3 linked regions of the Homo sapiens genome follow. The protein of the gene in region 2 purifies or fractionates together with the protein of the main gene of each other region. This does not show direct contact. Each region holds a gene or a part of one and is shown on either strand. Other genes may lie near its edges. The genes, in order: IFT88, DNAJC16 and KLC1.

Region 1 (3,500 bases), on a different chromosome or scaffold from region 2:
ACTAAAGAGTTCAGAATTTTAAAGCTAATCCATGTCTTTTTCTTTTAGGATTAAAATAATGCAGAATATTGGAGTTACATTTATTCAGGCTGGTCAGTATTCAGATGCTATTAATTCATATGAGCACATAATGAGCATGGCACCAAATCTGAAGGCAGGCTACAACCTAACTATCTGTTATTTTGCTATTGGAGACCGAGAAAAAATGAAGAAGGCATTCCAAAAATTGATTACTGTTCCATTAGAAATTGATGAAGATAAATATATTTCACCAAGTGTGAGTATGAAAAAGACATTTCTGTAGCCACTTCCCACTTATCTGTGCTTTTCTGTTTTCAGAATGAGAAAGCCAGAATAGATGACTTCTTGGGTTTTTCCCAGGCCTGTATCAATGTGTTTTATTATTGATGTATTTCATTTTTTATTTAAATTGGGTTGAGAATGAGACTCTATTGAAATGGGGTAGAGATTATGGTTAAAACAGACTGCACAATTTTAGTAAAAAAATCATTAAAAATAAGATTCCATGTCATTCATTAAGCATAATATCTTTTTTTTTTTTTTTTTTTTGAGACAGAGAGCCTGCCTTCCAGGCTGGAGTGCAGTGGTGCAGTCTCAGCTCACTGCAATCTCTGCCTCCCAGGCTCTGGCAATTCTCATGCCTCAGCCTCCTGAGTAGCTGGGATTACAGGCATGCGCCACCATGCCCGGCTAAGTTTTTTATTTTTAGTAGAGAAGGGGTTTTGCCATGTTGCCCAGGCTGGTCTTGAACTCCTGGCCTCATGTGATCCACCTGCCTCCACTTTCCAAAGTGCTGGGATTACAGGTATGAGCCTGGCCAAGGGTAATATCTTGACCAAGAAACCTCCAAATCCTTATTTCACCTATTAAGAGCCATTGTGGAGCAGAGGGAACCTCAACTGTGTATAAATATCTCAAGAGCGAAGGCTGGGCGCAGTGGCTCACACCTGTAATTCCAGCACTTTGGGAGGCTGAGGTGGGCAGATTGCGAGGTCAGTAGTTTGAGACCAGCCTGACCAACAGGGCGAAATGCTGTCTCTACCGAAAATACAAAAATTAGCTGGGTATGGTGGTGGGCGCCTGTAATCCCAGCTACTTGGGAGGCTGAGGCAGGAGAATTGCTTGAACTTGGGAGGTGGAGGTTGCAGTGAGCCAAGATTGTGCCACTGCACTCCATCCTGGGTGACAGAGCAAGACTCTGTCTTGAAAAAAAAAAAGTGAAATAAATTCCTTATCCTTACTCATAGAGTGGAACATAATGCAGTTATCAAAAGTCATATTTTCAAACACCTAGAGAAATATTATATAATGTTAAGTGAAAACATACAGCTATGCACACTTATACATGAACATAAACTGGAAGAATTGACACCAATATAAAACAGTAGTTTCTGAGCTATGAGATTGTAAATGCTTTTGAAATATTTTCCAGATTTTTACAAATAAAATATTGGCATACTGTATATTAGTTTAAGGAAAATTGCCTCTATTTGTAGATAAAAATGGTACATTTTCAATTTCACAGAGTTGAACTTTTAATAGATTTTCTTAACAGATTATATTAGCTGGGCATGGTGGCGGGTGCCTGTAATCCCAGTTACTAGGGAGGCTGAGGCAGGAGAATCACTTGAACCCGGAAGGTGGAGGTTGCAGGAGCCGAGATCGCACTATTCACTCCAGCCTGGGTGACAAGAGCAAAACTCCATCTCAAAAAAAAAAAAAAAAAGATTATAAGAGTACTGTAGCATAGCAGAGTATAGGCTCTGAAGCCAGATGCCTTGGCTCTCCTACTCAGCTCTTACTCTCCCTGTGTCTCAGTTCTTTTATATATGTAATGGGATTAACTATTATAACCTATCTTACAGGGTTAAGGTGAGGATTATAGGTGAGGATTAAATGAGTTAATGCATGTGAAATGCTTAAAATAGTACCTGGCAGCTGGGCACAGTGGCTCACACCTGTAATCCCAGCACTTTGGGAGGCCGAGGTGGGAGGATTGCTTGAGCCTGAGAGTTCAAGATCAGCCTGCGCAACATGGCGAAACTCCATCTCTACAAAAAAATACGAAAATTAGCCAGGCTTGATGTTGCACACCTGTAGTCCCAGCTACTTGGGAGGCTGAGGTGGGAGGATCACCTGAGCCCGAGGAGGTCAAGGCTGCAGTGAGCCGTGATCACACCCCTGCACACTAGCTTGGGTGACAGAGTAAGACCTTGTCTCAAAAAAATAAAAAATTAGCCAGCCTGGTGGTGTGCACCTGTAGTCCCAGCTACTCTGGAGGCTGAGGTGGGAGGATCATCTAAGCCCGGGGAGGTCAAGGGTTTAGTGAGTTGTGATCACAACATTGCTCTCCAGCCTGGATGACAGAGTGAGACCTTGTCTCAAAAGTAAAATAACAAATAAAAAAAATATATATTAGCCAGGCATGGTGGCACATGTCTGTAGTCCCACCTACTCGAGAAGCTGAGTGGGAAGATGGCTTGAGCCCAGAAGTTGAGACTGCAGTGACCCATGATCATGCCACAGTGCTCCAGTCTGGGCAACAGAGCAAGACTCTGTCTCAAAACAAAACTAACCAAACAAAAAAAATGTATGTGAAAGATAGTTAAGTGCTGGGCAAATGTTAATTATTATATATTATTTTCATATTGAGAAAAAATAATATATGTTGTAAAATCATCTGTGTTTTTAATGGGGAGTAGAGATATGGATCATACTAAGTAATTGATGATTGAAGCATTTATATTTGAGTTTAGAATTAAAGTATTACATATTTGTACTAACAACCCCAGCTTCTGTGTACTTGGTCCTAATCTTTCCATCCTGATCCTTTTATCAGCTTCTTAGAATAGGTTAGTTCAATGGAGAATGTGATTGGTAATCAGAAATATGAAAAAGAAAGTTCTAATTTACATAAGGGAAAATAGAAGGATTAATTTACTCTCCCTTTTTTAAAACTAATTAGTAGGGAGGCTTATTGGAAATTCAAGTTCGTGGCTGGACATGATGGCTTATGCCTATAGTCCCAATACTTTGAAAGGCTGAGGTGAGCAAATTGCTTGAGCCAAGGAATTGAAGACCAGCCTGGGCAAAATGGTGAAACCTCATCTCTACAAAAAATACAAAAATTAGCCAGGCATCATGGCATGCCCCTGTAGTCCCAGCTACTTGGGAGGCTGAGGTGGGAGGATCACCTGAGCCCAGGGAGGTGGAGGCTGCAGTGAGCCATGATCATGCCACTGCACTGCAGCCTGGGCAATAGAGTGAGGCTGTATCTCAAAACAAAACAAAACAAAAATTAAGTTCTTGCTGTTTACTTCTGAATTATTCTTTTTTTCTTCCATTTTATTTTACCAGGATGATCCTCATACTAACTTAGTAACTGAAGCTATAAAAAATGATCACCTCAGGCAAATGGAACGTGAAAGGTAATATTTTAAACTTAATAACGTAGTTATTAATTACATTATTTAAAATAT
Region 2 (3,730 bases):
TCCTATGCTCAAGTGATCCTCACCCTTCAACCTCCCAAGTAGCTGGGACTACAGGCACATGCCACCATGCCCAGCTAACAACTTTTTTTTTCCTTTTTTTTCTTTTATGAGACAGGGTTTCACTCCCGTTGCCCAGGCTGGTATGCTCTCCCAGCCTCAAGCAGTCCTCCTGCCTCAGCCTCCTGAGTAGCTGGGACTAAGGCCACGCCTGGCTAATTTTTGTACTTTTAGTAGAGACAGGGTTTCACTATGTTGCACAGGCTGGTCTTGAACTCCTGACCTCAAGTGATCCACCTGCCTTGACTTCCCAAAGTGCTGGGATTACAGGCATGAGCCACCATACCCAGCCCTTTTTTTTTTTTTTTTTTTTTTTTCTTGAGACAGGGTCTCAGTCTGTCACACAGGCTAGAGTCCAGTGGTGTGATCCTAGCTCACTGCAGTCTCTTAAGTCTTGGGCTCAAGCAGTCCTCCCACCTCCACCTCCCAGGTAGCTGGGATTGCAGGCATGCACCACCATCATGCCTGGCTAATGTTTTTTTATTTTTAGTAGAGACAAGATCTCATTATGTTGCCCAGGCTGGTCTCGATCTTCTAAGCTCAAGCAATCCTCCTGCTTCGGCCTCCCAAAGTTCGGGGATTATAGGAGTGAGCCACTGTGCCTGGCCTTTTGTTTGTTTGTTTTTAATTTTTTGTAGAGATGGGATCTCTCCATGTTGCACAGGCTGGTCTCTAACTCTTGGGTTCAAGGGATCCTCTTGCCTTGGCCTCCCAAAGCATTTGGGTTAGAGGAATGAGCCTCCATACCTGGCCGTGTTTCTTAATTTCCAAACATAAAGGGAAATGTTTACATTTCTGGTTTGCATTTTAAATGGAATTCTAGGTTAATTACCTTGTGGTCAGAATACCTGCTGTCAATGATTTCAATCCTTTGAAATGTGTGAAAGTTAGCAATAAAATGGTCACACGGTTTTGTAACCTGCCTTTTATACTTTGCAACATTGTTGCTTTGGGATTTATTTTTAATTGCCCAGTTCGCTACAAATCCTGAATGGAAATAATTTTGCCTAAAATTCAAAATGATTGACTTTTCGTTTTGGGTTTTTGTTTTGTTTTGTGTTTGGTTTTGTTTTGTTTTTGAGATGGAGTCTCGCTCTGTCGCCCAGGCTAAAGTGCAGTGGCGTGATCTCGGCTCACTGCAACCTCCGTCTCCCAGGTTCAACTGATTCTCTTGCCTCAGCCTTCCAAGTAGCTGGGACTACAGACACACGTCACCATGCCTGGCTAATTTCTGTATTTTTAGCAGAGACGGGGTTTCACTATGTTGGCCAGGCTGGTCTCAAACTCCTGACCTCGTGATCTACCCACCTCAGCCTCCCAAAGTTCTAGGATTTCAGATGTGAGCCACCACGTCCGGCCATGACTGACTTTTTTAATTTGTCAGCATAAAACAGTGAATAAAAATTCTCCAGTGGAAAGTGTACTTGATTTTCCCTTTGACCCGAAATAGCTGCATCATTGCTTTCAGCCCTGCATTGCTGAAATAGATCACCACATGTTTATTCGCTCAAACAGGTCTGTCTTGTTTGGTTATATTACTTTAGCCAAGGTCAGCTACGTTTTTATTAAGCTGGTAAGTAAAGAAAGCCCATCTATTTGCATTGAGAACACTGCATAAAATCTAGCTGATTCTTGGTTTTTCTCTAGGCCCGAGGTATGAAGAAGCAAATCATTGACGACTTCATCACCCGAAACAAATATCTATTGGCAGCCAGGCTCACCAGCCAGAAGTTGTTCCATGAACTCTGCCCTGTGAAACGGTCGCATCGACAGAGGAAGTAAGGACTTAAGGCTTTGCCTCTGCTTGTTATTACAATAGAAGGATCATGATTCATTTTACTATAGGGTGACTAGACATCTGCCCTGTAACATTGAGAACTTATTCTTCATTTAACAAATACTGGGCCGGGCATGGTGGCTCATGCCTGTAATCCCAGCACTTTGGGAGGCCGAGGAGGGCGGATCATCTGAGGTCCGGAGTTCAAGACCAGCCTGACCAACATGGAGAAACCCCATCTCTACTAAAAATACAAAATTAGCCGGGCATGGTGGCTTATGCCTGTAATCCCAGCTACTAGGGAGGCTGAGGCAGGAGAATCACTTGAACCTGGGAGGCAGAGGTTGCGGTGAGCCGAGATCATGCCATTGCACTCCAGCCTGGGCAACAAGAGTGAAACTCTGTCTCAAAAAAAAAAAAAAAAAAAACACTGATTAGTGACTGTGATGGTAATCATACTAATATGATGTATTAGTCCAGGGCACTTTAGCACCAAATTGTCAGATGTGCCAGCCTGTCCTAGTGGTCAGAGAAGATTTCCCTAAGATGTAACATTTCAGCTGAGACCTGAAGGATGAGCACAGTTTAGCCAGGCGTCTGGGATAGACTGGGTCACTTTACAGAAGCACAGAATATGGAAGAGTGACTGTCCCTACTAAAGCATTCCACACAGGGTGAGTCTTTGGAGGTCTTGGGAAGGAGCAAGGATAACAATTAAACAGTAGGGAAGTACAGAGTATTGAGGAAATGGATTGGTGGGAATCGGGAAGGCTAAGTTACATGTATTCAATAAAGTAGGAAGAGTTATTATACAAAGTATCTAAAAAGTCTAGAAATTCAGGGAATGTATTCATTACACCTTCTCAGGTGAATGAATCAGTAGCTTTAAATTTAGGGCTGTTTCATCTGTAAAAGGTATCTGGATATGGAAGGAAAACATATCAATCATGTAACTTGAAAATATAAAACATAATTTCCCTGTGTGTCTAGGCTTTTCAGATTCCTTTATAGTCTTAAGAGCGAAGAAAAAAATGACTTAAATATAAAAAAAGAATATCCTGGACTGTAAGGATTGTTGTTTACACAGCCTTCAAAAAATATCCCAAATCCACACACTTCTCACTTTTTTTAACCACTGCCACCCTGGAACAAGCCACCATCGTCTCCCAGCGAGACCCCCCTGGCAGCCTTCTAACTAGTCTCTCTGCTCCATTCCACTCTTGTACCCTCCAGGCAGATGTCCACACGTCAGCCAATAATGTTTGAAAATGCAAATCAGATCCAGTCACTCCCCATCCTGGGGTCTTTGCACTTGTAGTCTCTCTACCTGGGATGCTCTGACCCCATTTCCTGTCATAACAATGTCACCTTTTCAGTTGGCACTTCCCTGACCAACCTGTCTGATGGAGCCTGGCTTCTACCCACTCTGGCCTCTCTCTGTCCCCTTTTCATCTTTTTTTTTTTTTTTAATATATAGCACTTGTTGATACCTGTCATAATATATCTGTTTTCTGTCTTCCCCACTGGAATATAAGCTCCATGAGGGCAATAATATTGTCTATATTACCTGACATATACTAAGTGCTCAGTAAATATTTTTGGGAGAATGAATAGCTAAACTTTCCATTGGAACCTTGCAAAGGAAGCCGTTCAGAATGAGGCTCAGTGGCCTCTGGCCTGAGAGAGATTTGACCAGCCCTCCCTATACTGGAAGAACTAGGACAAATAGTTTCTAAAAGGCCCTGCCGGCCAGGAACAGTGGCTCACGCCTATAATCCCAGCACTTTGGGGGGCTGAGGCAGGCGGATCACTTGAGGTCAGGAGTTTGAGACCAGCCTGGCCAACATAGTGAAAACCCGTCTCTACTAAAAATACAAAAACTAGTTGGGTGAGGTG
Region 3 (3,730 bases), on a different chromosome or scaffold from region 2:
ATCCCTCTCATAACATAATAACCAGGTTATTATCCTCCTAGGTTTAAAACCTGAAACTCCAGAAGGTGGGACCTTTTCTTCCTTCTTTTTTTAAAACTCTTATCTGCGACACCAAAAAAGCAAGTTTAAATTCATGTCACCTGTTCTCAAGGTAACAGAACTTGAGAAATAATACGTTCACAATATCCAAACAGAGCTACAGTTCTGCAACTCAAGGCTGTAACATGGTTAGGATGAAGACTCTAAAATCAGGGTGTGGGCAGTCACTTCCTCTATGAAAGCAGAAACCGCTGGCCAGCAGCCCCTCTTCTGCTCTATTCACTCACTAAACTAGAGAATGCTAAGAAAGAAGCAAAGCTTTGGTATATTTAATTTTACCTAAGATATGCTGACAGAGCCAGAAGTTATCAGGAGAGAGTATTTAAAAACCTAGATGTTTCCAGTGTTTTCATCTCTATGTCAAGCATGATATTATAGAAACAAAGGTTAGTCAAAGATATGAAGCAATCTGGCCCTGGGATTGCAGAGACCATCACCCACTGGCCAGTGTCCATTCTCCTTCCTTAGGCTTAAGGACCTGCCACTGTAAGTGGGAAGACAACATTCCCCAGTCTCCCACTCACCCAGGTACAGCCATAAGGTCTGGCCAATGCAATGTAAGCACTGCTGTACACATCATCAAAGCAGCAGCCTTCAAGGAAGGAGGCACGTCCTTCCTTTCCCTTCCCCTATGCTAGAACAGGGCCACATGGAGCTCACTCTCAGTCCCCAAGACAGGCTGCCAAGGTGCAGTGTGGCAGATGTTAGGAACCTGAGTATCCCCGATGACTGTGTAGCTACAGAACCCGTCCAGGAGAGTGTACCTCAGTACTTATTTGACAAACATCTTGTGGTTTAAGCCACTGTTTTTGTTTTTTTGATACTGGCAGCCAAATCAAATCCTAAATGATACACAGCAGTATCCACTATTTTGGATCCGCTTTTCAAAATTCAGAGAGGCCCTGAGGTCAGGAGTTCAAGACCAGCCTGGCCAACATTTTAGTTTCTACTAAAAATACAAAAAATTAGCCAGGAATGGTGGTATGTGCCTGTAATCCCAGCTACTTGGGAGGCTGAGGCAGGAGAATCACTTGAACCCGGGGGACAGAGGTTGCAGTGATCTGAGATTGAGCCATTGCACTCCAGCCTGGGCGGCGAGAGCAAACACTGTCTCAAAAAAATAAAAATAAAAATAAAATTCAGAGGCCGGGCATGGTGGCTCGCGCCTGTAATCCCAACACTTTGCTGAGGCAGGTGGATCACGTGAGGTTGGGAGTTCAAGACCAGCCTAACCAACATGGAGAAACCCTGTCTCTACTAAAAATACAAAATTAGCCAGGTGTGGTGGCCCATGCCTGTAATCCCAGCTACTTGGGAGGCTGAGGCAGGAGAATCATTTGAGCCCAGGAGGCAGAGGATGCAGTGAGCCGAGACTGCATCACTGCACTCCAGCCTGGGCAGCAAGAGCAAAACTCCATCTCAATCAATCAATCAATACAATTCTGATAGGCCCAAATCAATAGTAATTTATTAACATACAGAACACATGATCTGTTTTGTTTTGTTTTTTCTTTGAGAAAAAGTCTCGCTCTGTCACCCAGGCTGGAGTGCAGTGATGCAATTTTGGCTCCCTGCAACCTCTGCCTCCCAGGTTCAAGTGATTCTCCTGCCTCAAGCCTGCCTAGTAGCTGGATTACACACGCCAGCCACCAGGCCCGGCTAATTTTTGTATTTTTAGTAGAGTCAGGGTTTCGCTATGTTGGCCAGGCTGGTCTCAAACTCCTGACCTCAAGTGATCCACCTGCCTCAGCCTCCCAAAGTGCTTGGATTACAGGCCTGAGCCACACCGCACTCGGCCTGGATCTGTTATTCTATAATCATCTTTCCTCTTCTTTAGTGAAACTGCTTATTTCAAACAAGTCTCCATTTTACCATCAAAAGTTCCTGATAACGTCTGAGTCATTCTCACTCGTACCTGTGCCTCACTCAGGCCGAGCTCCAACATCTCCAGTGACTTCCGGATCATGTTTGATTTCTCCTCCACCAAATTACTTTCATCATCTTTCTTCAAACACTTCAGTGTCTCCAGCAAACTTTGTAAAATGGAATTGTGCTCATTCTTCAAAGCTTCCAGCCCCTGAATTACTTGCTTTGTCTTAGAAATAATTTCATCCTGTGTAAGCTTCTCCAACTTGTCTTCCTTTATGTACACCATTGTGGACATGTTGTCATACATTCTGGAATGAAAAAAGAAAAAGAAATTAGATCCCTCATTACAGGTTTCATTTCTGTTACATCAAGTAAATATGAAAATTTTTTAATTAACATTTTATAGGGGAATAATAAATATGCACATTTGTAATTTATGACCTTGAAATACCATATTCTGCAGTTTCTGTTTTTCCTTTGCAGACACATTTAATTACTTTTCTGGTTTATGTCTTAATTCTTTTTTATGACAGCAACTGAAATTAATGCCAAAGATTAAAAGCAGCAAAACATCTAAATGGCATTTCCAAAACACATAGCCTCGGTGAACAACATTTTTTCTCAGAATGTTTGCAAGCCTTTTTCTCTTCCTAATGAAATGCAGGAAGAACACTACATTCTTGGTAAAATGTTTAACTGGACAAAGGCTTGAAAAGGAGTCACACAGCTGGAAGAAGAAAGAAAAACCAGCCAAAGAACATGGAACAGGAAGAGCAGCAGGGGAGGAGCAGACCTGGAAGACACAGGGCATCAAGGACAGGTGCAGCACGGTCACCGGGCAGGCTCACAGATGAGGATGGCACAGCGAAGCACCACCAGGGCCAGGCCCAGGGTGATGTGATGCAATGTCTGGAAGGGGCTTTCAAACACCAAAGTGAGAAAGAAAAGGGGGAGGAAAGGGGAATATAAAAACAGCATCATTTGTGCTGTTGTGCCTGACAGCCGCTGTCACTGAGCAATGGTTCCCTCTGCTAGCCTCTCTCCTTTTTTCTAAGTCTTAAAAACCCATAGTTAAGTTTAAAAAACAGAAAGATAGTGAGCAGTGATCTTTTTCGGCACAGTGACAGGGATGGAGGCAAGATTACACGTCAGAGTTATTTCCTTCACAGCACTGCCACTGTCTAAAATCTCACGATTCATTAAGTGTCTAATGTCACCTTGAATATAAGCTCTTATTTAAAAAGGCAGGACAGCCAGGCATGGTGGCTCATTCCTATAATTCCAGCACTTTGGGAGGCCAAGGCAGGCGGATCACTTGATGGCAGGAGTTCAAAACCAGCCGGCCAACACGGCGAAACCCTGTCTCAACTAAAAATACAAAAATTAGGTGAGTGTGCTGGCACACGCCTGTGGTCCCAGCTACTCAGGGGGCTGAGGCACGAGAATCACTTGAGCCCGGGAGGCAGAGGTTGCAGTGAGCCAAGATCTCACTACTGCACTCCAGCCTGGGTGACAGAGCGAGACTCTGCCTAAATAAATAAATAAAAATAAATGAAGTAAAATTAGCTGGGTGGTATGTGCAGGTATTCCTTGCTACCCAGGAGGCTCAGTGAGGCACAAGGATCGCTTGAGTCCAGGAATTTGAGGTGACAGTCAGCTATGATGGTACCTCTGCACTCTAGCCTGGGTGACGGAGCAAGACCCTGTCTCTTTAAAAAATTCCCAAAAAAAGAAAAAAGGCAGGGACTTGATCTTGTAGGAC

Evidence for each region.
Region 1: the proteins of DNAJC16 (region 2) and IFT88 purify together in Homo sapiens (co-immunoprecipitation; one large-scale study listed by IntAct). This does not show direct contact.
Region 3: the proteins of DNAJC16 (region 2) and KLC1 purify together in Homo sapiens (affinity purification with mass spectrometry, with the first as the bait; one large-scale study listed by BioGRID). This does not show direct contact.

What each region holds. Positions count from the first base shown.
Region 1 is NC_000013.11:20,601,657-20,605,156, forward strand, and holds part of IFT88 (intraflagellar transport protein 88 homolog), read left to right. Parts: intron 1-48; coding exon 49-277; intron 278-3,378; coding exon 3,379-3,449; intron 3,450-3,500. UniProt on the Homo sapiens protein: Positively regulates primary cilium biogenesis. Also involved in autophagy since it is required for trafficking of ATG16L and the expansion of the autophagic compartment.
Region 2 is NC_000001.11:15,557,822-15,561,551, forward strand, and holds part of DNAJC16 (dnaJ homolog subfamily C member 16 isoform 1 precursor), read left to right. Parts: intron 1-1,704; coding exon 1,705-1,835; intron 1,836-3,730. UniProt on the Homo sapiens protein: Plays an important role in regulating the size of autophagosomes during the formation process.
Region 3 is NC_000014.9:103,653,110-103,656,839, reverse strand, and holds part of KLC1 (kinesin light chain 1), read right to left. Parts: intron 2,277-3,730; 5' UTR 2,276-2,276; coding exon 2,015-2,275; intron 1-2,014. UniProt on the Homo sapiens protein: Kinesin is a microtubule-associated force-producing protein that may play a role in organelle transport. The light chain may function in coupling of cargo to the heavy chain or in the modulation of its ATPase activity.